Regions from separate parts of the Homo sapiens genome. Here all the other regions are linked to region 3. The links come from fine-mapping of genetic effects on gene expression. A gene starts in region 3. Each other region holds a variant in brackets. All regions are shown on one strand. Distances are between the middles of the regions. Region 1 holds the start of LOC105371157 (a long non-coding RNA gene). Region 2 overlaps KATNIP (katanin interacting protein). Region 3 holds the start of KATNIP (katanin interacting protein).

Evidence for each region. PIP is the estimated chance that this variant, and not a neighbour inherited with it, causes the effect.
Region 1: its variant is the best candidate, but not a certain one, in a credible set for the expression of KATNIP in whole blood (TOPMed, PIP 0.76).
Region 2: its variant is the best candidate, but not a certain one, in a credible set for the expression of KATNIP in whole blood (INTERVAL, PIP 0.87).

The regions. Positions count from the first base shown.
Region 1 is chr16:27,739,752-27,751,110 of GRCh38, reverse strand. KATNIP (katanin interacting protein) reads right to left here. Exons shown (of 28, transcript NM_015202.5): 15 at 10,191-11,070; 16 at 805-1,527. LOC105371157 (a long non-coding RNA gene) reads left to right here and starts at 3,221. Exons shown (of 3, transcript XR_950957.3): 1 at 3,221-3,324; 2 at 3,613-3,748; 3 at 4,721-4,795. The variant G/A (reference allele first, on the strand shown) is at 4,844.
Region 2 is chr16:27,646,349-27,657,707 of GRCh38, reverse strand. It overlaps KATNIP (katanin interacting protein), which reads right to left. Exons shown (of 28, transcript NM_015202.5): 6 at 8,973-9,104. Among named protein-coding and RNA genes, the nearest start is that of KATNIP, 100 kb to the right of the region's middle. The variant G/A (reference allele first, on the strand shown) is at 6,050.
Region 3 is chr16:27,545,421-27,553,472 of GRCh38, reverse strand. It overlaps KATNIP (katanin interacting protein), which reads right to left and starts at 3,329. Exons shown (of 28, transcript NM_015202.5): 1 at 3,296-3,329. The coding sequence starts at 3,302. GTF3C1 (general transcription factor IIIC subunit 1) reads left to right here and starts at 3,560. Exons shown (of 37, transcript NM_001520.4): 1 at 3,560-3,803; 2 at 7,950-8,052. The coding sequence starts at 3,583. RefSeq lists enhancers at 3,464-3,573, 3,584-3,663.

The DNA.
Region 1 (11,359 bases), 200 kb before region 3:
GACAGGTGCTTTATGGGAGATGCTGAATGAGGTCAGGCCTAGCACACTCATGCTGTAAGAGGGGATGAGTGGACCGGGTCTGTGGCTGGGTGCAGGGGCTCATGCCTGTAATCCTAGCACTTTGGGAGGCCAAGGTGGGTGGATCACTTGAGCCCAGGAGTTCGAGACCAGCCTGGGTAACATGGTGAAACCTCGTCTCTACAAAAAATACAAAAATTAGCCAGGTGGGTTGGTGCACCTGTAGTCCCAGCTACTTAGGAGGCTGATGTGGGAGGATTGCTTGAGCCCAGGAGGTCGAAGCTGCAGTGAGCCGAAACCATGCCACTGTGCAGGGCAAGATCCTGTCTCCCCACCCAAAAAAAAAAAAAAAAAAAAAAAGGGCTGGGCGCGGTGGCTCACGCCTGTAATTCCAACACTTTGGGAGGCCGAGACGGGCAGATCATGAGGTCAGGAGATCGAGACCATCCTGGCTAACATGGTGAAACCCTGTCTCTACTAAAAAAAAAAAAAAAAAATACAAAAAATTAGCCGGGCGTGTTGGCGGGTGCCTGTAGTCCCAGCTACTCGTGAGGCTGAGGCAGGAGAATGGCGTGAACCCGGGAGGCGGATCTTGCAGTGAGCCAAGATCGCGCCACTGCACTCCAGCCTGGGGGACAGAGCAAGACTCCGTCTCAAAAAAAAAAAAAAAAAAGAAAGAGAAAGGACTGATCTGTTGTTGGCTAGCCAGCTGGTCTGTTTTTTCCCATAGACTCTCAGCAAGTCACAGATAGGGGCTCTGAGAAAATTCTTACAGACACGCCATACCTCCCGCCAGGGTTCCAGAGGCCTTGGCGATTTCTCCTTCAAAGATGCACTGGGTGTCTAACAGCATTGTGATGTCCTTCACGCCTCGGAAGGAATGTATCCGAGATTTATTGTAGTTCCAAATTCTGATCAGGGCAACGTGGCAAGGGTGCGTGAAGTCAATGGTGATGGAGTGGGATCTGCCCCGCGTGAAGGGGGCCAGCCAGACATGCATGTCATCCTGGGTCCTGTTCACCCCGTCGATGAGGTTGGTGACCACGCGGGGGTCTTTCCCATAGGCTGGTAAAATATTGATATCGGGAGGGTCTGCTTTTATGTTTGAAATCTGCACCGGTTCACCCTTGGAACTGAATATTTCTATTCCGTTGAGGCCGACATAGTGTCTGTCCCCCCAGGTAGACTTGATGTCAATGACCAAGCGCTGTCCATAAGGCAAGACGGGGATTTTAAAGTCACCCCCAGCGTCTGTCTCTCCAGAGTAGCCATCCTGCCCTCTCGACAGCCCTGGCTGCTCCCCCTTCTTGGAGGGGGGCAAGTCGCTGTGCCGGCTGCTCTTTTGCTGCAGGAGCTCATCCAGGATGTCCCCCGGGAGCTCCGTGTTGGAGATGCGTCCCCGGTGGGAGCGGTCGAAGGCACTGAGGGAGCTCCATGACTCGTGAAGTGTGTGCTCCTGCTCACTGCGCCACCTTGACCGTGACGGCGTCCTGGAAGACCAGGTGTCTTCTGGAAGAAAGGACACAAGAGGGGGGAAGCCCTGTGAGTGGCATGTGTGGAAGTGGGGACCATTAGAGACTGTCTCCTGTGGTGGCTCTCAGTGAGGCAGGGCCACCTCCAGGGGAGCCCTCTAGAAACCAGCGGGGTTGTTCCCGGCTGTCTCCTTAGCCAAGAGGCCTCTTGGCACTGGATGGCTGGGGCCAGGCATGTTACCATCCTGCACTGCATGGGGGCCCTGGCACAGAGCTTGGTCTCCTGTCCCACACAGCTTCTGACTGTCCTGTGGGCCATTCAGGTCGGTAAAATAATTGTCTATGATCACCCAATTCCAGAATCTGGTTGTTTTTGCAAAAACACAAAGCATTTTTTCATAGACTGAATTTTCTAAGAATGCAATCATCGTGTGAACCAAGGGAAGACTACTTGGCTGTGTTAGAAACTTTGCCAGGAGTCGCTCCCCACTGTAGAAACTCACATGACCAGGGGCAATGCTGCTGCCTGAGGCGTCTGAGTCAGCCACAAGAGGGTGTGTGCTGGAGACTGTCACAGTCACGTGACTCTAACGGTGTTTTCAAAGACAATTTAATGGCAGGTGGAAGGTTTGTAAAAGAACGTTAAAAGGAAAAAGCCAGATACGCAGCTTTAAATGCAGCATATCCTGGTACGGGTGACATGCACCCGTGTTAACAGTGTTGTTCCTGGTTTCTGGGTGGGGAGCAGGAAGGACTTTTATTTTCTTCTTTGTAGCTTGATTTTTTTAAATTCCCTTCATGCATTACTTTTATTTTCTTTCTTTTTAATTTTTTTTAGAGACAGGGTCTCGCTCTGTTGCCCAGGCTGGAGTGCAGTGGTGTGATCAAAGCTCACTGCAACCTTGACCTCCTGGCCTCAAGCGATCCTCCCGCTTCAGCCCCCCGAGTACATGGGATTATACACATGACCACTGGGCCCAGCCTGTAATACTTTTATCATCAAGAAAAAAATGCTATTTGTTTATTTATTGAGACAGGGTCTCACTCTGTCACCCAGGCTGGAGTGCAGTGGCGTGATCATGGCTCACCATGGCCTTAACCTCCCAGGCTCAGGTGATCCTCCCACCTCAGCCTCCCGAGTTGCTGGGTCCACAGGTGTGCACCAACATGTTCGGCTAATTTTTATTTTTATTTTTTTGGTAGAGATGGGGTTTTGCCATGTTGCCCAGGCTGGTCTTGAACTCTGGGCTCAAGCGATTCGCCTGCCTCAGCTGGGCGAATCCCAGTGCTGGGATTACAGGCGTAAGCCACCGCGCCCAGCCAAAAATGCTATTTTAAAAAGCCATTAAGCCAGGTATATTATAAGGTAAGGAATTTACTTGCACACATGGCTAAAGCCTGTGTCCCAGGTGCGTGGAGAACACGGTCCCAGACTGATCTGAAGGCCCCACGCTCCTTATGGAACATGAGAGCCACGGCGTGCACACCACGCAGTGGCCTGTTCTCACAGCCACGCCATGGCTCACTGCCATCTAAGGGTGTCATCCTGCAAAAACAGCGGCTGCTGACACTGACATTCTGTTTTTCCTCCTTTCATATCGCACTGTGCCCTGTACTCCATTTCCTGCCTGTCTCCTAGGGGGCTCGGCTCCATCAATTATCTCCTCTCTCCAGAATCTCCAATCACTCCTTCCCCACTGGCACTTTCCCCTCTTTGCCTGCAGACATGCATAAATCTCTCCTACCTGGAAGAGAAGAAAGGAAGAAACAGGAAGGCGACCCGCTCCTGTGGCTCCCTCCAACCACAGCCCTATTTTCTCCCTGTTTCGCTCAGGTGCTCTGCCACCCCTCCCACCCCTCCCAGCCTCTCCCAAGCCCCTGCCACCCGGTGCCTCTTTCCAGTGGGATTGTTTTGCTCACTCAAACTCCACTTCCCCTTCCACTCAGATTTGGGGGATCCTTTGGGGACACCCCACCCCCCACCTTCCGGCCATCTAATTGGATCAATGCCGACAGTATCCTTCCAAGCTGGCCTCAAGGAGGGGCACTCTTTAAACTGGTGGTGCTGAAGCTGGAAGGATGTACATGTGGAATTGCCAAAGACTATCTTGCTACCCTATAGAGAGAACCTGCCTGAGAATGAAGCCAACACCGAGAACACGAGTCGAGAGATGGAGGATCCTGATGACAACCTCTGAACTCCTGGATCCAGCTGTGCCTAAAGTCAAACTCCTGGTGGCTTTCTGGCCTTTGCATCCGTAAGACTCCTACAATTCCCTAACCCGCCACTGAAATGCCTTCTCCAAGTGAACAATGACCTCCCAGTCTTTGTCAGTCTTCAGTCTATGTGTGACATCCCTGGCAAACCTCTTCCATTTGATACCTCCTGCTCCACTGGCTTAGGAGCCACTATACCTCCCTGGTTCTCTGCCTCTCCCACTGACAACTCTCTCCATCACCCCAGTCCTACCCTCAGTCTGGGGGTGTCCCAAGGCCCAGGCCGCTCCTCTCCTGACACTGCCATCCTTCCTTGCCCTCATTTAGCTCCTGGTTCCCAGGCAGGCCCTGCTTAACTTTACAGGTCAAGTTCTGCCGTCTCTTCCCTAGGCACCATCCTTCAATTCCAATGACCTCTTGGAAGGTCCAGACATGTCCACTCTGTCACTTCAGTCTCTATGTGCCTAAAATGGAATTTGTCATCAACCCCTCTAGCTGGCATTGTCTCTCCTGCACTGAGAATCAAGACAACCTGACTCTTACCATGCCCACAGCCCTGAGTACGGCCGCCACTGACTCCTGTCCCCTCCCCTCTGCGCTCCCCACCATGATCTTTCAGCTCCAGCCCCGCTGGCCCTCCTGCTCCCTGGACAGGCTGTCTCTTCTGGCCTCAGAGCCTTTGCCCTTGCTGCACCCCTGCCAGGAGTGCTCTTCCTCTGGAGGCCCACCTAGCTGGCTTTGCTTGTCACCCGCCTCCTTGGAGAGGCCTTCTCTGCCACTTTATCCTCGCTCCTGGAGGTGTCCCAGTGCGCAGCACAGCTCCTGGTGTGTGGAAATGCCAGTGAAGGGATGGACACTGGCACCACAATTGTGCAGCCCTCAGGATCAGGCCTAGAGGCCGAGGGACTCCCCCCTCCACCTGTCAGTTCCTCTGCCCCTGTCCTCTGCCCTCCCCCACTTCTCATCTGCCATTTAAAAAGATACCAGAGGTTTCTTCCATCCTCTCCCCTCAGGCACGAGGCTTAACATGTGGCAGAAGGAACTACCCAGATGGATTCTCGTGACTTCAGTTTATGTGATTTGATTTCCACTGACTAAAATGAATGGCCTGGGTTGGTCTGCAAGCGCACCAAGGA[G/A]ACAGCACCGAATGTCACGTGTCAGGGATGCTGCCTGAGTGTGCGAGGCAGGCAGGGACTTTGCTTTCATTCTGCGTCTGCTTTCTAACCTATTCTCCCTGAGTTGTACACTCTGGGTTTAAAAGCAGAGGAGTAGATGGCCGGGCACGGTGGCTCACGCCTATAATCCCAGCACTTTTGGAGGCTGAGGTGGGTGGATCACTTGAACCCAGGAGGTGGAGGTTGCAGTGAACTGAAATTGTGCCACTGCACTCCAGCCTGGGTGACATAGCAAGACTCCATCTCAAAAAAAAAAAAAAAAAAAAAAAAAGCAGAGGAGTTGAGCCTTGCTCTTAGACCTCTTTGACATGAGAGCTGGCTGGGGGCCCACGGACCTCTCTGTCTGCAGACTCCATGGGAATTGGGGAATTGGGGAGCTGCTGGGATTAGTGCTCTGTCCTGTTGTCACCAACATTTCTACAATCTGCACAGACATCAGAAAGCCACTCCTTCAACCTGCAGTCAACACAATCTGGGAGGGCCCCCAGTGATGAGATGGTGCTATCAAAATTCCTGACATACTCCTAGATTGAGATGAATAGGACTATGGAGCTCTGAAGTTTGTCAAAATCAACTGCACTGCCATGAGGTATGTGGTAATTGCTACTAAAACAGGAAACGATGAAGTACTTAGAGGGATATCACAGAGCCATGTTTATTCCAGTGAATCACCCTTTGGCCATAACTGATTGGACAAGGAGTGGACACCTGACCCAAGTAGACCAATTGGCTTCTCCCCTGAGACTTTGGAATTGGTTGCAGGAACAAGAGCTGGGCATAGTCACTCCAGGGCTGTGAGGCCATTTCCTCACATTTCTGCTCATATGGCTGTGAGGCCGTGTGAGTAGCAGAGAAAGCTGATATCGTGAGGAAAGTGAGGGGAAGTGGACCCACAGAGAAGAAGAGGTAGGGCCCAGAAGAAATAGAAAGAAGCGTCCTTGGTTCCTGCCAACTTTCTGGTTCTTCCTTCCGGTCCCCTGTGATGAGTGGCTACACTCTCTACCTTTGGGGTCAAGGTGATCATTAAGGATTCTCCAAATAACATCCTCTTTACTGCTCAAACTGGACTGATGAGATCTCCTCCACCTGTAAACAACTGACCCCTGATGAAAATACTTCCAAAATGCAGATGGCATTCAACGAGATGCTCTGCTGAGCATAAGATTTCTCAGGCTTGCTCTTTCTCTCTTGCTCTCTTTTTTTAAAGAGATCGGATCCTGCTCTGTCTTGATTTTCATAAATTCCCTATATTACTTTGATTTTAATTAATTAAATTTATTTTCTTTTATTATTTATTTTATGATTTTATTTTCTGAGACAGAGTCTCATTCTGTCACCCAGGCTGGAGTGCAGTGGCGTGATCTTGGCTTACTCCAACCTCCACCTCCCGAGCTCAAGCGATTCTCATGCCTCAGCCTCCCGAGCTCAAGCGATTCTCATGCCTCAGCCTCCCGAGTAGCTGGGATTACAGGTGCGCACAAACATACCTGGCTAATTTTTGTATTTTTAGTAGAGACGGTGTTTTGCCACATTAATCAGGCTGGTCTCGAATTCTTGACCTCAGGTGATCTTCCCGTCTCAGCCTCCCAAAGTGCTGGGATTACAGGCAACAGCCACTGTGCCCAGCCCAATTTTCATTTTTTTAGAGACAGGGTCTCGCTCTGTCACCCAGGCTGGAGTGCCGTGGTGTGATCATGGCTGACTGCAGCCTTGAACTCCAGACTTGAACTGCAGATTTTGATTCACTTTAATTTCTTTTCAGGCATTTCAGTGCCTGGGTTCAAGTGATCCTCCTGCCTCAGCCTCCCGAATAGCTGGGACTACAGACACACACAACCACACCCAGCTATTTTTTTTAAAACTTTTGTAGAGATGGAGTCTTACTATATTGCCCACGCTGGTCTTGAACTCCTGGCCTCAAGAAATCTTCCCACCTTGGCCTCCCAAAGTGCTGGGTTTACAGGTGTGAGACAGTGCACCCACTACCCAGGCTCTCTCTTATACTGGCAACGAAATTCCAATCCCAGAATAGAACTTGGGCAGTCATTCATTCTACCAGCATTCTTGGTAGGCTGGCCTGTACCTTTCCGGAAGGGCATGGCTACGGTATTTGGCTCTGGGTAATGGATAATTTAAAATTTCTAAGCAACTTTCCTTTTTAGCACGACTGACTTAACAAGCATGAAATCTCAGGGGCTTGGTTCTTAATGTGCATTGAGCCAAGCACTGAAATGCTTGGAAAGAAATTAAAGTGAAACAAAATCTCTTGAATTTGGGCAAGTTGGAGTAACACCATTGCCTTGGAACTCCTGGAGGCTTTGCACCGACTGTTTGCTGGGAAAGCTTGGAAGGCCTGGCTTTCCCGGGGCAGGTGGGTGATGATGGCTGTGACCATAGGCCGTGACTACTATAGGGTAATGTTTGGAAACATGTATGGTAGAGCTGATCTGTGCGGGTTCCAGTCCTGCTTTAACCCTTACTGTCTATGTGACCTGAAAAATATTACTTCAATCTCATGTTCCCTTTATCTGTAAAATGAGTCTGTTGGGAGGTTATTTGGGTAACGTGCCTGGACCAGAGCCTGGCTTACCACAAGCATGCTGTGCACCTGGTCACTGCAGTTCTTTTTTACAATGGCCCTCCCACACTGTGGAGGACCTGCCATGAGCCAGGCGCCTGCCCTCAGAGAGCTCCTCAACTCTTTCTTTCCACCTTACCCTCCTCCTGACACTGACTGAGCCTCAGTGTTAAGTCTCAGAAGGGGTGAGCAGCAAAAATTTGTAAGGCTGGGGAATCAGAGGAGGCAGCTCTGTCCAGGATAACACTTGGAGTCTGAGGAACTTGTTCCTGTACCCTAAGTGACATGTCAGGGGTATATCTGCTAGACACTCCCTAATACAGAAGATGCCGATTTGAATCATTAAAAAAATGCATGCATTAAGACATGTAATTAACCCAAATACCCATCAATGATAGACTGGATAAAGAAAATGTGGTACATATACACCATGGAATACTATACAGCCATAAAAAGGAACAATATCATGTCCTTTGCAGGGACATGGAGGTAGGCAGAAGCCGTTATCCTCAGTAAACTAATGCAGAAACAGAAAACCAAACACCACATGTTCTTACTTATAAGTGGGAGCTGAACTACGAGAACACATGAATACAGGGAAGGGAACATCACACACTGTGGCCTGTTGGGGGGTGTAGTGGGAGGAGGGAGAGCATTAGGAAAAATAGCTAATGCATGCTGGCCTTAATACCTAGGTGACGGGTTGATAGGTGCAGCAAATCACCATGGCACACATTTACCTATGTAACAAACCTGCACATCCTGCACGTGTACCCCAGAACCCAAAATAAAAGTTAAAGAAAAAAAGAAAAGAAAACTAGAAAAAAAAATGCATGCCTTGGCTTTGCATAGATATTTCACCAAGAGGCAGCATCACAGAGAGGGTGATGATGATGACAGAACAGCTAATATCTCTTGGGGGCTCCTGTGTGCCAGGCACTGTGTTAAATGCCCCACAAGTATGATCTCATTTATTCTCCCAGCACCCCATGTATTATTAGTGTCATTTTACAGAGGAGGAAACAGGCTCAGCAGGGTTTCAGAACCTGCCTGAGGTGTGGGTTGGAGGTGATGGAGCCAGGATACGTGCCCAGGCAGCCTGGCTCCAGGGTTTGTGCTCCCACGTGGTATGGGGTGGGGTTAAATCCAGAGGCTCTAGGGGTGAGCCCTGGCATGGCAGGCCTGAGTGTTCTGTGGATGGAAAAGGACCTCGTCCAAGCTAGTGGTGAAATAACGACTACTACTCACCGAGCACTCATCATGTCACAGGCTCAGTGTTGCTATTTGGAAGCCATCATCTCATTCTTTCCTTGCCACACTGGGTGGGGAAGTCATAACCATTTTACAGATGAAAACACTGAGGCCCAGAGAGTTGTGTGCCTGGCTAGAGGTCCCAGGTCTGTAAGCGGCTGAGTTTGGATTCAATGGTTTGACTCCTAGCTGCTATCCGTACTCTCCAGGAGCCAAGTCTGAGTGCAAATATTGAGACTCCCTGCCTTGATGGGCTCTCCTTTCATAATCAGGAATGCCCTTGAAGACCATCTAATCATCTACTGCAAAGTTCACAAAGCTCTCAGGGTGAGTCCTGCCAGCAGATGTGCCTTTTTTTTTTTTTTTTGACATATACAGTAGTTTAAAAATAATCTCAATCAGTTGCCAAAGTCAAAAAATAAGAAACATTTCTGGTTTCTCTTGAAAAAAGTAAAGAGGAGGTCTGGTACAGTGGCCTTGCATTCATTATTTTTTTTTGAGACGGAGTCTCACTCTCTTGCCCAGGCTGGAGTGCAGTGGCACAATTTCGGATCACTGTAGCCTCCACCTCCTAGGTTCAAGTGATCCTCCTGCCTCAGCCTCCCAAGTAGCTGGGATTACAGGAACGCACCACATGCCTGGCTAATTTTTGTATTTTTAGTAGAGTCAGGGTTTTACCATGTTGGCCAGGCTGGTCTCGAACTCCTGGCCTCAGGTTATCTGCCCGCCTCGGCCTCCCAAAGTGCTGGGATTACAGGTGTGAGCCATTGCGCCCGGCCTGGCCTTGCACTCCTAAATGCTTATTAGAAACCTGAGTGGAGTGGCAGCCGCCCTGTGGGTGGGCTTATGGTCTCCAAATTGCCAAAGTCCTCACTATTCCCTGTGCCACTTCCAACACTCAGGCAAGTGTCAATTGCTATGCATCATCACACTTGTGTTATTATTTTTTCTTTTTTTTCTTTGAGACAGAGTCTCGCTGTGTCACCCAGGCTGGAGTGCAGTGGCGCAATCATGGCTCACCGTAGCCTCGACCTCCTTGGCTCAAGCGATCCTCCTACCTAAGCCTCCCAAAGTGCTGGGATTACAGGCCTGGCCACTGTACCCAGCTATTTTTCTAACAGTACAGTTAAGGATAAAGTGAAGTGACTAGAGACCGATGTCTCTATGAAAGGCAGGAGAACAAAGTCTTTTGGAAAATGGCTTGGAAAAGCCATGTGTTGCAAGAAAAATGGGCAAAGGGACATACCTTGGTGGCAATGACAAATACATCTATGAATTTACCATGCAAAATGTGTCTTGCCCATTTCACTCATGTATGCATCTCTTTGGCCCCTGAGACAGTGATTTTGTGACCCTTAGTTGAGAACAACCATCTTGTTGTGCAGATAAGGAAACTGAGGTCCAGGAGCTAACTGGCTTCATGCCAATTAGAGGGGCTGGGATGATGATGCCCAAGTCGGGCTGCTCTTTGGAGCTTACCTCTGCTGGCTGGCTGGTCGTCCCCATGACTACTGCTGCCAGCATCCTTCCTTGAGCCCCTCCTCCCACTAGCAGGGCGCTCTCTGTTGGGGGGCTGGTTAAAGATGTCTGAGTCATCACTGTGGACTTTGGTGGTTGCCCTCTGGGGTCTCTCCTTGGTGTTGACACTCCGGCTGGTCCCCCACCCTGGCTCATGCCGTAGGCCTTTATCCCTGGCCTCGGTCTCTCCAGGACCCTCACCGATGACATCGTCTGATGGGAGCCTGCCCTTCCAGGCCAGGGGCTTCTCGGGACTAAGCCAGAGGGGTTTTGGCTTCCTGCCTCCCTGCTTCCTGTCCTTGCCGGTGGGAGAAGGTTGTAACCAGGATGGGGTTTTCCCGGGTGGCTCACAGATTTTTCTGCCCATGAGGTTTTCCAGTTGTTGGATGAGAGAGGGCTCCTCATGGACAGGAGGGCACTTCACAGGTGGGGAAGTGGCAGGAGCACTGGGCATGTCACCCATCGAAGTGGGGACTGCCGACAGTCTCAAATATTCCTCTAACTGGGACAAACTGTCTTTCCTGCAATTAGTAGAATTCTTTCTTTTGCCAGACACATTTCCTTGTGAAGAAAGCTTTGCATCCGCTAATGTTTCAGCTGGCGGTGAGCAACCGAGACCAAGCTCCTTGTCCCCGCTGGCACCAGCCATCTCATGGGTGCCTTTGCTTTCTTCCGAGTGAGCGTTCATGGCCTCCTCTAGTTGCTCGCTCTTCTCGTTCTTCTGGTCAACCAGGATGCTGTGGTCAGCTGGGGCCTCCCTATCTCCTTTGTCTAACTTGCCATTGAAGATGAGGTTTCTGTTGACGTAAAGCTTCACGTTCTTGGCACCAATGTCAAGATCCTGAAACCATAAGATTTAACAAAGTGAAGATGCATAGCATCAGACTGATGTATGAAATTTTGGAAGTCGAAGATACCAAAAAAAGAAAAGAAAATGTGAAATGCTAGAAATGCAAGCTTTTGAAAACCACAGTGCTGGGGGTGTGAAACTAGGCTTGGTCTCATTTCTGTGGGAACCGCTACATACTCTATAAATCAAAGGACTTTCACAAAGAGACGGCCTCAATCGCTGCCTTCGTCATCATTACCTCCTGTCGGGACATTCGTAATAGCCTACTAATGGGTCTCCC
Region 2 (11,359 bases), 100 kb before region 3:
GAACTCTTGACCTCGTGATCCACCCACCTCGGCCTCCCAAAGTGCTGGGATTACAGACATAAGCCACTGCGTCTGGCCTTGTTTTTTTTTTGTTTGTTTTGTTTTGTTTTGTTTTTTGTTTTTTAACTAGGTATGCTTTCTTTAGTAGAGATGGGATTTTGCCATGTTGGCCAGGCTGGTCTTGAACTCCTGACCTTGGTGATCCACCCGCCTCGTCCTCCCAAAATGCTAGGATTATAGGTGTTAGCCACTGTGCCCGGCCATTTTTCTCTATTTCTTCTTTTGGTGATGCTTAGTTCTACTGGAGCAGCTCCTCTCCTCTTTAATGTGCTAGCTTTTTCTATTTTGAAAAAATGTAAAACCTACAGAAAACGTATCATGCTAGTATAATGAACACCCAAATACCCTTCACGTATATTCACCAGTTGTTAACATTTTGCCACATTTCTCTCCTTCTCTCCCCTCCCACTTTTTCCTTCTCAATATGTACACACATATTCTTGATCCTGACCCATTTATGCACAGCCCCTCATGCCTGCACACTTCAGCATGTGTCTCCAGAGAACAAGGACATTCTCTTACATGGCCACAATGTAACTATCAAACTCAGAAAATTTAACATCAATACAATATTATCTAATATAATATAGTTCATCTCAAATTTCATTCATTTTCCAAAATTCTCCTTTTATGTAGCAATTCCTCTCCCTCACACCCCTAGGATCTCATCACACTGCCTTTATTGTGTTTTTTTTTAGGATTTTTTTTTTTTTATACTTTAAGTTTTAGGGTACATGTGCACATTGTGCAGGTTAGTTACATATGTATACATGTGCCATGCTGGTGCGCTGCACCCACTAGCTCGTCATCTAGCATTAGGTATATCTCCCAATGCTATCCCTCCCCCCTCCCCTCCCCACCACAGTCCCCAGAGTGTGATATTCCCCTTCCTGTGTCCATGTGATCTCATTGTTCAATTCCCACCTATGAGTGAGAATATGCGGTGTTTGGTTTTTTGTTCTTGCGATAGTTTACTGAGAATGATGATTTCCAATTTCATCCATGTCCCTACAAAGGACATGAACTCATCATTTTTTATGGCTGCATAGTATTCCATGGTGTATATGTGCCACATTTTCTTAATCCAGTCTATCGTTGTTGGACATTTGGGTTGGTTCCAAGTCTTTGCTATTGTGTTATTTCTTTACTCTCCTTTAATCTGAAACAGTGCCCTTTGTCTCTCATGCTACTGACTTTTTTTTCTTCCTTTTTTTTTTTTTTTTTTTTTCTGAGACAGAGTCTCACTCTGTTGCCTAGGCTGGAGTGTAGTGCCATGATCACAGCTCACTGCAGCCTCAACCTCCTGGGCTCAAGTGATCCTCCCACCTCAGCCTCCCAAGTAGCTGGGACTACAGGCATGCACCACCACACCCAACTAATTTTTTGTAGAGATGGAGTCTCCCTATGTTGCCCAGGCTGGTCTGGAACTCCTGGCTTCAAGCATTCCTACCACCTCGGCCTCCCAAAGGGCTGGGATGATAGGTATCAGCTACCGCACCTGGCTGCCACTGACATTTCTGAAGACTCCAGGCCAGTTGTTTTTAGAGTATCCCCCTCAATTTGGGTTTGTCTGGCTGTTTCCTCACTGGATTTCGCTTTTGAAAAACATTTTTCATCCACATTTTCAGTCATGGATTCACTGAGGAGATATTTGGCTAAGGAGAGTTCTCTCTATCATTGTTTAAAACATTATTAAGCATAACTGATGGATGGTCACCTCTGAATACCTTGCTCCTGGGTATAACATCAATAATATTCACAACAGACTGTGGCACATTCTGAGCAAAACCAGATGAGTGCAATATTCCCCGCCTGTGACTGTGAATTGTAAGGAACAAGGAGTCATGAGCCTGGGCTTCCAGCAGGGGCTTCCCTGAGGCCTGGGTGAGCAACATTATTTCTTTATTCCTCAGTTTCCTCAAACCATAACATGGGAATGAAAATCCCTAGAACTTAACTCACAGGGTTAACGTCGTGATGGATGTTACATGCTCAACATGGTGCTTGGCACTCGGTAAGTGCTCATTTAACGTGAGCTCTTATTATTTAAATGTAACATCATTAAGTCAAATCTCTTGTGAATTGTTTTACATCTTCTGGCCAGGCGCAGCGGCTCATGCCTGTAATCCCAGCACTTTGGGAGGTTGAGGCAGGAGGATCACTTGAGCCAGGAGTTTGAGACCAGCCTGGGCAATAAAGCAAGACCTTGTCTCTCAAAAATAAATAAATAAATAAATAAATAAATAATTGGCTGGACATGGTGGTGCGTACCTGTAACCCCAGCTACTTGGGAGGCTGAGGTGGGAGGATCACTAGAGCCCAGGAGTTCAAAGCCGCAGTGAGCCATGATTGCACCACTGTATTCTAGCCTGGGAGACAGAGCAAGACTCCATCTCTTTAAACAAACAAACAAACAAAATATATATATATATATATATATATATATATATATATATATATATATATATATCCATTCTAGGGGGTAGCAGCCCAGCGGTTTTTGTTTGTATATTTGTTTTGAGACAGCTTCTCTCTTTGTCATCCAGGCAGACATGCAGTAGCACAATCATAGCTCACTGCAACCTTGAATTCCTGGACTCAAGTGATCCTCCGGCCTCAGTTTCTCAAGTACCTGGGACTGCAGGCACATGCCACCACACCCTGCACATTTTAAAAATTTTTAGTTGAGACAAGGTCTTGCTGTTTCCCAGGCTGGTCTCTAACTCCTGAGCTCAAGCCATCCTCCTGCCTCAGCCTCCCAAAGTGCTGGGATTACAGGTATAAGCCACCGTGCCCGCCCTGTGGTTTTCCTAGACTCTCTCACGGAGTCCATCTTAAGGCAGGCACAGCTGCTTGGCTACGGAAAAGATCCCCAGCCCTTAGGGGTTAGGATGCTGAAAACTGATCTTACCATCACATCCTGAATAGTTAAGAGGATCCTTTCTTTGTCCACGCTGCTTGAAGGGTCAGAATGTCCACATGCATTCAGAAGGGAGAAGTTAAAACCACAGGGCTTGGTACTGGTGGGAGATTTGGTATCCTAGGGACAAGCACAGAAAACTGGGCATGGTAAAAACAACTTCCTGTCCCTGAAGACATGCTGGGGCCTCGCTCTTCTGTTGGTCTCCCTGCCTCCCATCTTCTCCTCATTAAATCACCCTCTGCTCTTGCTCCTAAAGTGGATCTGATCACTCTCATCCCTGCTACATCAACACCATTGCTGGCACACAGCCAGTCAATGGACCAGGATCCAAACTCAGGCCACCAACTCCTAAAACAGTGCTCTGAACCATGGAGCTGTATGGCAGTTGAGTGAGTACCAGTGTAGAAAGATGGCCAAGGTATGTTGTTGAGTTTTTTTAAAAAATGGGAGGCCAGGCACAGTGGCTCACATCTGTAATCCTAGCACTTTGGGAGGCTGAGGCGGGCAGATCACCTGAGGTCAGGAGTTCGAGACTAGCCTGGCCAACATGGTGAAATCCCATCTCTACTAAAAATTCAAAAATTAGCCAGGTGTGTTGGCACGTGCCTGTAGTCCCAGCTACATGACAGGCTGAGGCAGAAGAACTGCTTGAACCCAGGAGGCAGAGGTTGCAGTGAGCCAAGATCTCACCACTGCACTCCAGCCAGGGTGACAGAGCAAGACTCCGTCTTTAAATAAATAAATAAGTAAATGGGGCTGGCCATGGTGGCTTAGCCTTGTAATATCTGGAAATTTGGGAGGCTGAGGCAGGAGGATTGCTTGAGCCCAGGAGTTCAAGACCAGCCAGGGCAACATAGTGGGATATGAGACCCTATCTCTACCAAAAAACTCCCCAACAATTAGCTGGATGTGGTGGTGAGTTCCTGTTGTCTCAGCTCTTCGGGAGGCTGACGCAGGATGACTGCTTTATCCTGGGAGGTAGAGGTTGCAATGAGCTGTGATTGTGCTACTGCACTCCAGCCTGGGTGGCAGAGCGAGACTTTGTCTCAAAAAGAAAAAAAAAAAAAAGTGGGAAAATCAAATAGCATGGATGGTATAATCCCATTTATGTGAAAATAACCATTAAAAATGTTAAAAAGGCACCCACTCAGAGGTCATTTATATGGTAACCCCAAACAGCAGGAACTGCCCTAAGTTCCTGCTGTGGTAAACCCCACGCATTGAAACTGCCCTAAGTCTCATCACTGGAACGAATGAAGGAAGACTGAAGGGATGTGCTGCAGAGTCTGGCTGGGGGCAGGGTTGGGGTGGGCTGGCCAAGGATGGTGGTCTTTAGTCGTTTATAAATGTCAGCAATAACCACTTTAAGACACTGAACTGTTACTGTGAGAAAAAACCAGACTCACCCCATGCCACCATCCACCCAATGGAAAGAACACTCAGAAGGCATTCCAGAAGACTTCAGGGTGGCCCTGTCTTCCTGTCACGTATCACGCTCTCAGGGACTTCAGAGGTAACTAAACTTGGGAGATACCACTCACTGGGAACGAGACAGGTCCAGGATATTCTGGATCAATGATCTCTTCTTGGATATAATGAAATATGCCATTTTTAGTCCGGATGGTTATCTACCCATCTACTCACAATAATTATCTCTGGGGCAGTGGGATTATGAAAGGACTTTTGTTTTCTTTGTATCATTTGATTTTTTGTTTTTTTTCTTTTAGAGACAGGGTCTTGCTCTGTCACCCAGGCTGGAGTGCAGTGGCATAATCATCGCTTATGGTAGCCTTGTCATTTGAATTTTTTATATCAATTATGCATTATCAGGAAAATAAGTATCATAATTTTTTAAAACGTAAACTTTGTTTCATTCCTGATACATCAACAGAGACAATATAATTTTTTTTTTTTTTTTTGAGATGGAGTTTCACTCTGCCCCTGCAGTACAGTGGCTCCATCTCGGCTCCTGTAACTTCTGCCTCCTAGGTTCAAGTGATTCTCCTGCCTCGGCCTCCTGAGTAGCTGGGATTACAGGTGTGTGCCACTACACCTGGCTAATTTTTATATTTTTAGTAGAGATGGGGTTTCACCATGTTGGTCAGGCTGGTCTCGAACCCCTGATCTTAAGCGACCCTTCACCTCCCAAAGTGCTGGTATTACAGATGTGAGCCACAGCGCCCAGCAAGAGACAATACCACTTAAACGGTGAACATATCATCCATTGCAGCATACAACCATGTGCCCAGGAAAGCCAACATAACTAAGACTTGCCACTTTGGCAGAACTCTCTGGAAAGCGGTGTCTTCCTTTCACCAGAGATGTAAAACAGGTATGATGGTTTCCCCTCAAACTTAAGGAGAATCCCGTATCTTTATTTCTGCCCTCAAGCCCCATGCAATCTGACCCATGGCTGCTTCTCTGACCTCTCCTCTACTTAAGTATCACCTCATCAAGGGGAAGCCCCTGCACCCTCCATATAAAATAGCAGCCCCTGGCCATTTTTCTCTATCCCCTTCCTATTTTATTTTTCTTATCAGCCCTGTTGTCTCCTGACACATTATATACTTGTTTCTCTTCTGCCTTATCCTCAGTGTCCGGAATGGTACCCAGGATGGTGGTACACTGGAGCACACACACCTAAGTAAGGGGACAGCTGTTCCTCAGCTCTGGTCACTGTTAGTGTATAAGAATGTGGAACCCTTGCCTGGGCATGGTGGCTCACGCCTGTAATCCCAGCACTTTGGGAGGGTGAGGCGGGCAAATCACCTGAGGTCAGGAGTTCGAGACCAGTCTGGCCAACATGGTGAAACCCCATCTCTACTAAAAATACAAAAATTAGTGGGGCGTACTGGTTGGCGCCTGTAATCTCAACTACTCGGGAGGCAGAGGCTGGAGAATCGCTTGAACCCTGGAGGCAGAGGTTGCAGTGAGCCGAGATCGCACCACTGCACTCTGGCCTGGGTGACAAGAGTGAGACAACGTCTCAAAATAAATAAATAAATAAAAATGTCAGCTAGTAATTCACATCTTTTAAAAGCAATGTACAAGTCAACGGGGTGGAGG[G/A]CAACAGAACATGTCTGCAGCAAGCCAGTCTGTGAACTCAGAGAAGCTATGAAATTGAACTTCACGGAAGATGTGATTAAAGGCGAGAGGCTGGTGTGTTTCAACAGTGAAGGTCAGATGAAAAGTACATATGCGGACATGCATTTCCTCTTGCTCCATTTCAGGTTGCGCTTGCAAACAGTGTGAGGTGGCTGAGTATATTTAGCCACGTGCCTTTTTTTTTTTTCCCTGTTCAGATTGCATCTCTTAAGACTTCTGCCTTTGCTGAAAACTGGCATTGCCATTTTACTCTTACACTTTGCAGGAAAATAACTCCAAGAGGAAATTGACTGTGAAGCCTTATGGAGTGCCCCCTCAAGATGGGGAAAAAAAAGAAAAGAGAGAAATATAATCAAGCACTCAGAGTGGAGAAAATTAAGTGCTGGCGGAGCAGCAGCCATGCCTATGCGGAGTATGTGCACAAAAGGATGCTAATGGGACTTAATGCTGCTGTCCCGTGTTGTAGGGAGCTTGAGAGCTCACAAAGGAAGGGCTATATGTTAATTTAACGAGAGGTGCCCAATGCTTGACCAAAGGCAAACTACCATGGCCTCTTGCTTGAAGGGCACATACATATCTGGGGCTGGGACTGTAACATATTATGCTTGGCTAAAAACCAGCCTCCCAATTAAGAGAAATTGATGGCTGTTTTGCACAGACTGATCCTGAGCAGGGGGCTGTTTAGTTCAAAAGCAAATTGTCTGTGTTGTTTGGGATTTGAGTTTTAAAGGTAATAAAGTCCACAATTTTGCCTACTGTTTAACCCCACTTTAATGGACTGGGCAGAGAAACAAAGTCATTGGATCATTCCATAGAAAACGACTTTTATATTCTGTTTTAGGGAAACAAAAATTTCCAACATACTCGGGTATTTTACAACCAAGATGTGAAACAAAGTGATCCTTGCTCTTTATCTGTCTTTCCTTTATCAGCAAATAAGGAAGTACAAGCATGAAAGCAAAATCGGAGGAACATTTCCTGGACAGCATTCCCATCTCCAGTAAGAGTCCTTCTCACTTCATAAAAGCGATACGTAGAAGCAAGACTCTGCCTTTGCGGTGACGTCACTGAATATGCAGCCGGGGCCCAGAGTTGAACAAATGCCACTCTGGCAAGCGGGGCAGGGTCTGGCTTAGCAACTTGACTTTGACCTACCACCTCTGGATAATTTTGCTTCTACATAACTATGGAGATGATGTACTCATTCTATTTATAAAAATAATGCCCTTGGAGTAAACCCCAACCATCCACTCCTACCTCCACCCTGGCCCAGGCCTGTTCTGCCCCAGTGCACCTAATCTTCCTTCATTCTTTATCCCCCTTGTTCACACTGTGCCTGCATCCTGCTCCTTGAACAAGCCTGGCCTCATGCCGTTGCACGCTTGCTGCTTCCTCTATCTGGAATGCCTTTCTCATTGCTCCTTGCCAAGCCACTCCTTTTTTTTTTTAGACACAGTTTCACTCTGTCGCCCAGGCTGGAATGCAGTGGTGCAGTCTTGGCTCACTGCAACCTCTGCCTCCCGGGTTCAAGAGGTTCTCCTGTCTCAGCCTCCCAAGCAGCTGGGATTATAGGCGCACACCACCACGCCCAGCTAATTTTTGTATTACAAGTAAAGATGGGGTTTCAACATGGCCAGGCTGGTCTTGAACTCCTGATCTCAGGTGATCTGCCCACCTTGGCCTCCCAAAGTGCTAGGATTACAGGCGTGAGCCACAGCGCCTGGCCCCAGGTCACTCCTAATCCATCAGGTTTCAACTGAAATGTCATGCTGGAAAGAGGCCTTCCTTCTCTCTCTATCCTGGCTAACACTGCCTTCTCTCCCACACCATCTTGCTATCCCATCTTTCTCTTCTGTTTTCTTCAGAGAACTTACTGATACCTGAAATGATCTCATCGTTTATTTCTTCCTTTTTTCTTCATTGTCTGTCTCCCCTTTGGAGCACAGGTTGCTTAAGAACAGGCACCTCACTGGGTGTGACCCATGCCTGTAATCCCAGCTACTCAGGAAGCTGGGGTGAGAGGATGGCTTGAGCCCAGGAGTTCAAGGCTGCAGTGAGCTATGATTGTACCAATGCACTCCAGCCTGGGTAACAGAGCACAATTCCGTCTTTAAAAAATAATACAAAAATAAAAAAGTATAGGCACCTCTTCAGTTTTGTTCATTTCTGAATCTCTGGTGCCTGGGACAGAGCCTGATGGTCAGTGAGAGGTGCTTAACAAATGCTTGTGGAAGGAAGGACTGGGATATACTTTTGCAGTTCAAAGGACTTCAGGAATGAAATGGCAATCTGAGGATGGGGAGTAAAATGTCCTGTTGTCAACCCTGTAAGCTGCTAAACCGACATGGACTCCAAGCCAAAGCTGCATAGGCCTCTAGGCTTTTAAACATGTGGCTCCTGCCGCCCTGCGGGTGGTATTCGAAATATTTATCAGGTGCATGTATACACGTGTGGACAGGCTGAGCATCAGCAATTGCTGCCTGCCCTCACCAACTTGCCCCTCAAACTCTTACCCAGCTTTTAGGACCCAGGACAAAAGTCACTCCCTCTAGGAAGCCTTCCGGGATCCTCTCCCTCCTCTGTCTGCGCCATGCTCTGCCCCAACCTCTCTGCATTCTCTCCCTGTACAGGGACTATGTGCTAGTGACCCTTAGAAGTCAGACCCCAGCCTCACCGACCCCTGGTCACCGGGTGCCTCTGAATGCTGACCTCTAGCCCAAGGTCTGCTCATCAAACTGTGTGAAATGAACGCAAGAGTGAAGGAACACAGCGGCGAGTGAAGGACAGAATAAATAACTGTCAGAAAGTGCCCCGAGGGGCCACTGCAGCACCGAGCCTCGCCGTCCTTCAGGTGTCCCGAGCACAAGGCCAAGGCCATCCCTACCTGCGGACGATCCTCAGAAGTGTTGTTTGCCTGGAGAGTCACATCCCCACACAGCTCAAAATCATCAGAATAGTCCACAGGAGGTTCGATGTGGAGCCGTGGGCCAGCTTCTGTTCTGATCTGCACAGATTTCTGTACAAAAATGCAGGCCATTTCAGATAAGGTGGAATGAGGTCTTCATTCCTCTGCGGGGCAGGGACTGGCACTGGAGAGGTTCAGCCAGGATCTATGGGCATAGATACCATGGGGTGGTGTGCCTGCATGCAACAGCAGTGGTGTCATGATGAGCATGGGCCACAGGCCTCCTCCTCATCCGGGCCAGCACTGGATGGGCCATGCCGCCTCGCTCAAGAGTCTACTGTTTCTTGCTGTCCAAAGAACGTGCAGGAGAATTTTTAAAAATAACTTTTTGGTTGGCAATTCTGTTCTTTTTTTTTTTTTTTGAGTCAGGATCTCACTCTGTTGCCCAGGCTGGAGTGCAATGGTGCGATCTTGGATCCCTGCAACCTCTACCTCCTAGGTTCAAGTAATTCTCCTGCCTCAGCCTCCTGAGTAGCTGGGACAACAGGCACCTGCCACCACGCGGCAAATTTCTGTATTTTTAGTAGAGACGGGGTTTTGCCACGTTGGCCAGGCTTGTCTTCAACTCCTGGCCTCAAGTGATTCACCCACCTCGTCCTCCCCAAGTGCTGAGATTACAGGCATGAGCCACTATGCCCAGTCGGTTGGAAATTCTTTATCAGTAGACTTCTAGTAGGTGCTAAACTTCTCAAAAAGGACTTGTGGTCAAGGCGTGGTAGCTCACACCTGTAATCTCAGGATTTTGGAAGGCCGAGGCAGGAGGATCACTTGAGGCCAGGAGTTGGAGCCCAGCCTAGGCAACATAGTGAGACCCCCATCTCTACAAAAAAATTTAAAAAATTAACCAGGTGGCGGGGCATGGTGCCTCACACCTGTAATCCCAGCACTTTGGATGGCCGAGGTGGGCGGATCACCTGAGGTCAGGAGTTCGAGACCAGCCTGACCAAGATGGAGAAACCCCATCTCTACTAAAAACACAAAATTAGTCAGGTGTGGTGGCGCATGCCTGTAGTCCCAGCTACTCAGGAGGCTGAGGCAGGAGAATCGCTTGAACCCGGGAGGCAGAGGTTGCAGTGAGCCGAGATCATGCCATTGCACTCCAGCCTGGGCAACAAGAGCGAAACTCCATTTAAAAAAAAAAAAAAATTAGCCAGGTGTGGTGGTGTGTGCCTGTTGTCCCAGCTACTCGGGAGGCTGAGGTGGGGGGATTGCTTGAGCCCAGGAGTTCGAGGCTGCAGTGAGCCAAGATCACACTACTGCACTGCAGCCTGGGTGACAATGTGACACCCTGTCTTTAAATAAAAGAAAGGGGGGGGCTTTGTGATTAGACTTGTTTGGGAAACCCTGGCCTACATACTCACACTGCAGATATCCTAAAATGAAACACAGCATGGGACATTTCCCAAACTTTCTGGACTGCAGACACTCTGGACTGGGGCCTCTCTTTCTTCTAGTATCCTTTGGATCGTTCTTTGGGAAGGAAACTCATTGGCCTGGTGTGGCTGATTACAGACTCCCCTCCAATGTCCACTTTCCCCTGCTTCTACTGCCTGTAGTTCCAGATGTGCACATGGAGTCCCAGGTTCCCCTGCAGCTAAGAGGAACCGCGTGAACCCGTTCTGACTCACAAGCTGTGGGTGGGAGGGAGGGATGTGCATTGCATCTTCTAGGTGTTTCCTCAAAGGGCAGGGGCCAGCTTCCCCAGGCCCTGCAGCTTCCTCTGCCAGCTGCAATGGGGAGGTGGGAGTGAGCTGACTGGTGCTGGGGGGAGGAAAGCAACATCTGGAGGATGGTCAGAGTAACAGGGGTTCCTGGGTGACCTCATGGAGCAAGGGCGAGTGCTCCCATCTAAGCAGTGTTGTGTCAGAGACAACAGCTTTCATGCTGTTGAAGCCACTGTTACTTGTGTCTCCCTGCTGGAGCAGCCAAACCTGTACCTTAACTGATGTACCTGGCACGCAAGGTTCCCTACCATGTGGCCACAGCCCACCTTCTTGCCCTGATTGCTGCACAGACAACCACACACCTGATAATTAGGCCAAACAAAGGGCTTCTGGGGCTGCGAGGATCTGCAGCTTCATCAGTCCAGCATCCAGGCTGTGTCCTTCAGGAAACACCTCCCTTGTTTTCCTCTGGGGCCCAATTTCCTCCCAACTCTCAGTCCACATGTGGCCCCATGGTGGGGATTTGAGGCAGGCCTGGCCAATCCACCTATTCCACCCTTATAACATGCTATGGCCAGCCAGTCCAGGGATAGAAACGGACCTAAGGCAGCAATGAGAACAGCCCTGGATTCCTGTTAGAGC
Region 3 (8,052 bases):
TAAATAAAATAATAGACAAATTTTGGTTATTCAGTCTTGGGAATTTGGCAGAAATTTTCTCAAATATGAAATAAGTGAGTCTGTCACTTCAAGGAAACAGCTGACAATATTTGCTGCCAATGTTAAAATTCAAGCTGTCAAGTGAAAACAAGTTGAAAACTTGTTTCCATTACCTTGAGTTTGATAGTTTCCTAATACTTAAACTCCTTTTTAAAATGAAATAGGTGGTGATATTAACAAATGTGATTTTTTAAATACCGTATAATGGCATCTGAAAGGTCAACGTTTAGATTTGCATAACTCACTGAACCAACATTTTCTAAACGACCAATGGCTGATGTTATAAAACCATATATGGGTAAAGCAGCCAATGAAAGGGCAAGATAGACCAATGGATTTTAATGTAACACAGTATAAAAGTTCACCTATAAGGCTTCAGATGACACACTGTGACTAACATTTAAGAAACTGCCACTTGTGGCCTGGCATGGTTCTTCATGCCTGTAATCCCAGCACTTTGGGAGGCCAAGGCGGGCGGATCACCTGAGGTTGGCAGTTTGAGACCAGCCTGACCAACATAGAGAAACCCCATCTCTACTAAAAGTACAAAATTAGCTGAGCGTGGTGGCACATGCCTGTAATCCCAGCTACTTGGGAGGCTGAGGCAGGAGAATCGCTTGAACCCGGGAGGCGGAGGTTGCGGTGAGCCGAGATCAGGCCATTGCACTCCAGCCTGGGCAACGACGGCAAAACTCCCGTCTCAAAAAAAAAAAAAAAAAAAAAAAACTGCCACTTGCAGGCCAGGCATGGTGGCTCACGTCTGTAATCCCAGCACTTTGGGAAATGGAGGCAGGCTGATCACCTGAGGTCAGGAGTTTGCGACCAGCTGGCCAACATGGGGAAACCCCATGTCTACTAAAAATAAAAAAAATTAGCTGGGCATGGTGGTTCACACCTGTGATCCCAGCTACTCGGGAGGTTGAGGCAGGAGAATCGCTTGAACCCAGCAGGCAGAGGTTGCAGTGAGCTGAGATCGTGCCACTGCACTCCAGCCTGGGCGACAGTGAGACTTTTTCTCAAAAAAAAAAAAAAAAAGAAAAAAGAAACTGGCATTTGCTAAATTTTGTATAGTATGAAAGGAGAGTGTCTACAGTTATCTGAAAAGGCAATTAAAATGTTTCTCTCTGCTCCAATTATATATTTGTATGAGGCCAAATTTTCTTCATACACACCAGCCAAAACAGCATAACAAAAAACAGTTTGAATCCTGAAGCAGAAATGAGAGTAGTTTTTTCTATTTCTATTGAATAAACTTGAAAAAACATAAAATAATGCTACTCTTCCTATTAATTTTTTGGAGGCAAATGTAATTGTTTTCCATTAAAAATATTATTTATGTTCAGAAGTAATGGGTTTATTGTTGTTGGAGTTTTTTTGAGACAGGGTCTAGCTATGTTGCCCAGGCTGGTCTTGAACTCCTGAGCTCAAGCAATCCACCCACTTCAGCCTCCCAAACTGCTGGGATCACAGGTGTGAGGCACTGCACATGGCCAATTATTATTATGATTATTATGAGCCACTGCACCTGGCCAATTATTATTATTATTATTGGGTTTTTTTGAGACAGAGTCTCGCCCTGTTGCCCAGGCTGGAGTGCAGTGGCAAGATCTCGGCTTCAAATGATTCTCCTGCCTCAGCCTTCCAAGTAGCTGGGATTACAGACATGTGTCACCACGTCCGGCTAAGTTTTAGTAGAGACAAGGTTTCACCATGTTGGCCAGGCTGGTCTCGAACTCCTGACCTCAAGTGATCCACCTGCCTTGGCCTTCCAGAGTGCTAGGATTACAGGCACGAGTCCATGCCCGGCCCAATTTTTATTATTTTTAAAGGAACTAATTAATGGACATCTTAAGATTTTCCCAGTTTAAATCTTCGATATGGTAAATATCATAAATATAAATAAACAAAGCTCTTTGAGGTAAGAGCATACAGGGGTCCCAAGGCTTAAAAGGTTTGAGGACTGATGTTCTATAGCAACATTACATTGACCTTTCCAGAAGGCAAAATGGTAAAGCACATTTTATAGTACCTCTAAAGTACAAAGGGAAAAGATATATTTTAAGCATATGACAGAATGTTCAATTAAAAACATTTTCTCCACACTACATTCAGTGAATATAAAAAGAATGTGGATTCCCCAGGAACAAATTCCCGAGAAGTGAGGGACAGTGCTGTAATTAGAAAAATGATCTGGACTCTAGCCCAGACCCTACCAGTCTCTCTAGACTTTAGTCTTCCCATCTGCAAAGTGAGATATCAGAATAGCCTATTTTCCATTTGCTTCCAATTGTCAATACCATGACTCTAATCAGGGATCCCTAAATGGGGGCCCACAAGCTGTCTCTGGCCTTCAGAGTGACTGGCCAACCCTGTTTTTGAGAAGTACCCCAAGAGGACAATCAGCTGGTGCTTGGTGAGCAGCTTTCCTTTCAGGTGAGGAATTGATTTTCAGTTACAGCCTCAATCCGGCTCACTAGACTCTCCTCTGCAGACATCTGCATTTACAACCTCTGGAATAAAGGGACCCTCAAAACCGGTCCAAATCTCAAGCTCCATAATTCAGCTCCAGAGACAGGGTGTCTGGGTTTCTCACTCACTCTGCTACATGCTGGTTGTTTGACTTTGGGCAAGTTCCTTAACACCTCTGAGCCTCAGTTTCATCATCTGTAAAATGGAACAACGCTGAACTCAAAAGGCTGGTATGAAGCTTAGCGAGGTGTTGCCCAAGAGTACTTACAGAGTTCTTGGTACTGGAAAGCACTTTGTTAAAGGGAGCTATTATTATTAACGCCAAGGCACAGAAAGGGAGTATTTCCTAAACTCCCTTCACCCCCCACACCAATTCCCTTTCCCAGCACCTGACGATTGCACTCCCACGATCAAGCTTGTTTTCATATCAACTCCCAAATCCGACAGTTCCACATCCCAACATTCACAAGACCCTCCTCAGACCTCTACTTCTCCTTCCCCACCCTACATCCCTTCACTGAGCTCCCGGCCAGTACCGGTTTCCTTCACGACCACAGCCGAGCAGAATGGTCACAGCACTGACCACTCCCCCAGGCTCTCCTCCGCGTTCCAGACCACTAAGCCTCCCTATCCCTCATTTCGGAGACCCCCTTGGGTCAGGAAGTGGTGGTCCAGGGGTTCATGGCCTAGGATTCTGCCCAAAGCGCGGTCGGGAGGGATGGGAGAATAACAGCCCGACCTCCCGGAGGGGCCCACAGACACTCACCGTCCATCCCTAGAGGCGGCGGTTCCGGGAGCTCGAACCGGAAGCGGCCTCTACACTGTTTGCAGTTCCCCTGGTTACTGCGGGGCCCCGGACCAATGACGGTGGAGCTCCACTTACTGAGCCCGCCCCCGGGGAGTGACGTCATGCCGGCGCGCTGGAACTCCTCCTCCGAACCCTGGGTCTGACCCACCTCCCCGGGCCCCGGATCGTTGTGCGCAGGCGCGATGGACCAAGGCCCTTGGCGGTGCGTTGCGCATGCGCCCCGGGCGCCGCCGACTGAAGTAGCAATGGACGCGCTGGAGTCGTTGTTGGACGAAGTCGCTCTGGAGGGGCTCGATGGCCTGTGTCTGCCAGCGCTGTGGAGCCGGCTGGAGACGCGAGTGCCGCCCTTCCCGCTGCCTTTGGAACCCTGCACGCAGGAGTTTCTCTGGCGGGCCCTCGCCACGCACCCGGGCATCAGCTTCTATGAGGAGCCTCGGGAGCGACCCGACCTACAGCTCCAGGACCGGTCAGCGGGCGGCCTGGCCTGGCGGGCGGGCGGGCGGGCGCAGGGCCCGGGGGCTGATGGAGCTGGGGGCAGGGCGGGGGAATGGAGTGGGGCTGTGCAAGTACCGGAGGCCTGTTGATTGAGTTGGGGCACGGCGGTAAGGCTAATCTGGGGTCCCTCAGGCCTGGCAGGGCCCTGGAGTCCGATGGAGTTGGCGGGGGGAGGGGGAGAATCTAGTGATGTCCCGTTTTGTCCCTGTGTGTGTTTTGGGGTAATGGCGAACAGGATTGGGGATATTCTTCAGGCTTAAAAGAATGTTTCCTTTACATTGGAGGATAGGATTAGAGCAGGAAAGACACTTTAGAGCCAGACTGGAGACTCCTGAGATCAACAGACCCTCATGGTATATTCATTCGGTGCAGATAGCCTAGGGCAACTCGAGATCTGCGTATCAGGACAATTAGCGATAATGCTAAAAGCTGACATTTATCAGGGACTTCATGGGTGAGGTGCTGTTCTTTTTTTTCTTTTTTGAGATAGAGTCTCTCTCTGTGGCCCAGGCTGGAGTGCAGTGGCGCGATCTTGGCTCACTGCAACCTCCGTCCGCCTCCCAGGTTCAAGCGATTCTCGTGCCTCAGCCTCCTGAGTAACTGGGATTACAGGCATGTTCCACCACGCCCGGCTAATTTTTGCATTTTTAGTAGGTATGGGGTGTCATCATGTTGGCCAGGCTGGTCGCGAACTCCTGACCTCAGACAATCCGCACCTCTCGGCCTCCCAAAGTGCTGTGATTACAGGCGTGAGCCACGGCGCCCGGCCACATTGCTGTTCTAAGAATCTATTCTAGAAGCTTTAGGAGCTTAAACTCACTTGATCCTCACTTGATTAAACTCCGTTAAACAGGAGATTAAATTCACTTGATCCTCACCTATGAGGTAGGTGCTGTTATCGTCCTCATTTTACAGAGGAAGACACTGAGTCACAGAGAGGGATTATGTAACCTAAGGTTCTGGGGGCAATAAGTGACTAAGAATTGATTTGAACCCAGGCTATTTTCAGCGTCTGTGCTCTTAAGCCATATTGTGAGGGTCAGGGGAGGTTCCAAGAGGTAATAATGTCCAAGACAGGCCGGGTGCAGCAGCTCATGCCTGCAATCCCAGTACTTTGGGAGGCTGAGGTGGATGGGTCACAAGGTCGGCAGTTCAAGACCCGCCTGACCAACGTGGTGAAACCCTATCTCTACTAAAAATACAAAAATTAGCCTGGCGTGGTGGCGCATGCCTGTATCCCAGCTACTCAGGAGGCTGAGGCAGGAGAATCACTTGAACCTGGGAGACAGAGGTTTCAGTGAGCTGAGATTCAGCCATTGCACTCCAGCCTGGGTGACAGAGTGAGACTCTGTCTCAAAAATAAAATAAAATAATGTTCGAGACAAAACTTAAAGGTTGGATTTAGGCAGCCAGTTGGCAAAGAGGACTGTTGGACAGAGAACAGCAAATGTGAAGTAAGTGGCTGAAGTGTGGAATTGGAGGTAGGGAATGAGGAATAGCTAGGACTGTGCTAAGATCCTTAATACAACATGTTATTTAATTTTTACAGAAACCTTAGGAGATGGGTAATATTCTCCCCATTTTCCTGAAGAGAAAATCGAGGCCCTGAGGGGTCAAGTGGCATGCTAAAAGTCAACTAGCAAGGGAAGAACCCAGACTTTGAGGAAGGTCTGAGTTCAGATTCCAGCCAAATTGGACTGGAATCAAGTCTTTTAACCTACTTAAAGAGTTTATCAGCCTGTAATCCCAGCACTTTGAGAGGCAGAGGTGGGCGGATAACTTGAGGTCAGGAGTTCAAGACCAGTCCAGCCAACATGGTGAAACCCCATGTCTACTAAAAATACAAAAATTAGCTGGGCGTGGTGGTAGACGCCTGAAATCCCAGCTAGGTGGAGGCTGCAGTGAGCCGAGATTGTGCCACTGCACTCCAGCCTGGGTGACAGAGGGAGAATCCATCTCAAAAAAAAAGCTTATCCTTTATCAAAAGGACAGTGAGAAGTCACTGAAGAGAGGGTCAGACTAGGGGCAAAGAGTGAAGTTGAGAGATTTTTAGTAATCTAGTCATGGTCTGGCTTACCATGGTGGGCGTGGGGATGAAGAGCACAGGCAGTCAAGACATAGTAGGCTGCTGTTTGGGCACCTGAGCGAACCCTGATTCTCATCTCTGAGGCTGGGAACACGGAAGAACAGCGTGGGGGTTGAGTCTGGGGGAGGTGGGGACTTTGCTGAAGAGACATGTGACACATTTAGCTTCAGGTTCTTTTGAGTTGTCCAAGTGAAGAGTCTTAATTAGTAAACATCTGGCTTCGTGGGAGTGAAAGCAGGCCAGAGGGAGGGACTGAGCTAGACATCTGTGAGTCATTCCTAGCAGCTGGTAATTAAAGCAGCTGGCTAAGATCAGCCCTAAGAGAGAGTGTAGTGTGGTTGGAGGTCTTGAGATATAGCTCTGCAGTGCACCTACATTTCAAGGCTGGATGGAGGGTGAGGGACTTTCAAAAGAAGACTGAGGCGGTGTGGCTGGAGAGGTAGAGGACAGTCAGGTCAGAGTGGTGTTCTGGAAGTTTGGGAGGAGACAGGATCATTTAAGAACGGAGGGTTGGGCTGGGTGTGGTGAATCATGCCTGTAATCCCAGCACTTTGGGAGGCCGAGGCAGGTGGATCATTTGGCCAACATCGTGAAACCCTCTCTCTACTAAAAATACAAAAATTAGCTGGGTGTGGTGGCAGGTGCCTGTGATCCCAGCTACTAGGGAGGCTGAGGCAGGAGAATCGCTTGAACCCAGAAGGTAGAGGTTGCAGTGAGCCGAGATTGCGCCACTGCACTCCAGCCTGGGTGACAAGATCAAAACTCAAGTCTTAAAAAAAAGGAATGGAGGGTTAAATGGTGCAGATAACACAGAGGGGGCAAGGAAGGAAAGGGCTGAAACATGTACATAGGATTTAGCCGCAATTAGACTAGTGTAGGATATGAGTGAGATTTCAAAATAAAACTCGACAAGCAGCCAGGCAAGGTGGCTCACACCTGTAATCCTAGCACTTTGCAAGGCTGAAGTGGGCAGATTACTTGAGCCCGGTAGTTCAAGACCAATCTGGGCAACATAGTGAGGGGAAAAAAAATTATATATATATATATGTATGTATTTTTTTTTTTTTTCAAAAAAAAAAAAACTTGACAAGCTTGGCTAACTGCATGAAAGAAGCACAAATGAAAAATGTCTCCATGGTGTTGTAAGAGGCACATGGAAGAAAGCGGTAGTAAGAGGGGAAAGAAGGGACTTAATTGGAGCTGGGGAGAGGTAATCATATTTGGAATGGGAGGCATTTAATAGACAAGTGAAGACATTGGATCTGTATTTGGAGAAAAAGGACTGAGGATTCAAAGGTGAGACTTGTTAACATGCAGGCGGTAATGCAAACCATGAAAATGGGTTAGGATATTAGAGAGATAACTAAGGAGAGATGGAAAGATGAGATCTTAAAGGGAGGAAAGCTTTGGCCACTTGTGGTGGCTCCCACCTGTAATCTCAGCACTTTGGGAAGCTGAGGCGGGTGGATCACCGAGGTCAGGAGTTCGAGACCACCCTGACCAACATGGTGAACCGTCATCTCTACTAAAAATACAAAATTAGCCGGGCGTGGTGGCACACCCCTATAATCCCAGCTCCTTGGGAGGCTCAGGCAGGAGAATTGCTTGAACCTGGGAAGTGGAGGTTGCAGTGAGCCAAGATCATGCCATTGGACTCTAGCCTGGGCAACAAGAGCAAAACTCCATCTCAAAAAAGCGGAGGAAAGCCTTGAATCATTTCGTCCAACTTGGTGGTTTGGAGACTGAGTACCAGATTTGGAGGGAAACAAAAGCCCATGACTTGGCCAATAAGGAGGTTTAGGTCCCAGCACCCAGCTTCTGGAATAGTCTGGGGAGTCCTGGAAAGGTCTGCGTTCTGTGGGATAGAAAGGCAGGAACCTGCTTGTCAAGATTATCTGCATTTATAAGGCAGGAAAACTGACTGATCTCACTTCTCTCTGATCTCTGCTGGAGGTTGTCAAAAGAACACAGCCAAGCACACATTATATCTGAAGCTGAGTTGGGCTTTGATATTTGTGTTTTTCTCCTTAGGTATGAAGAAATTGATTTGGAAACTGGAATTTTGGAGTCTAGGAGGGACCCGGTGGCTTTGGAGGATGTCTACCCCATTCATATGATCTTAGAGAATAAGGAT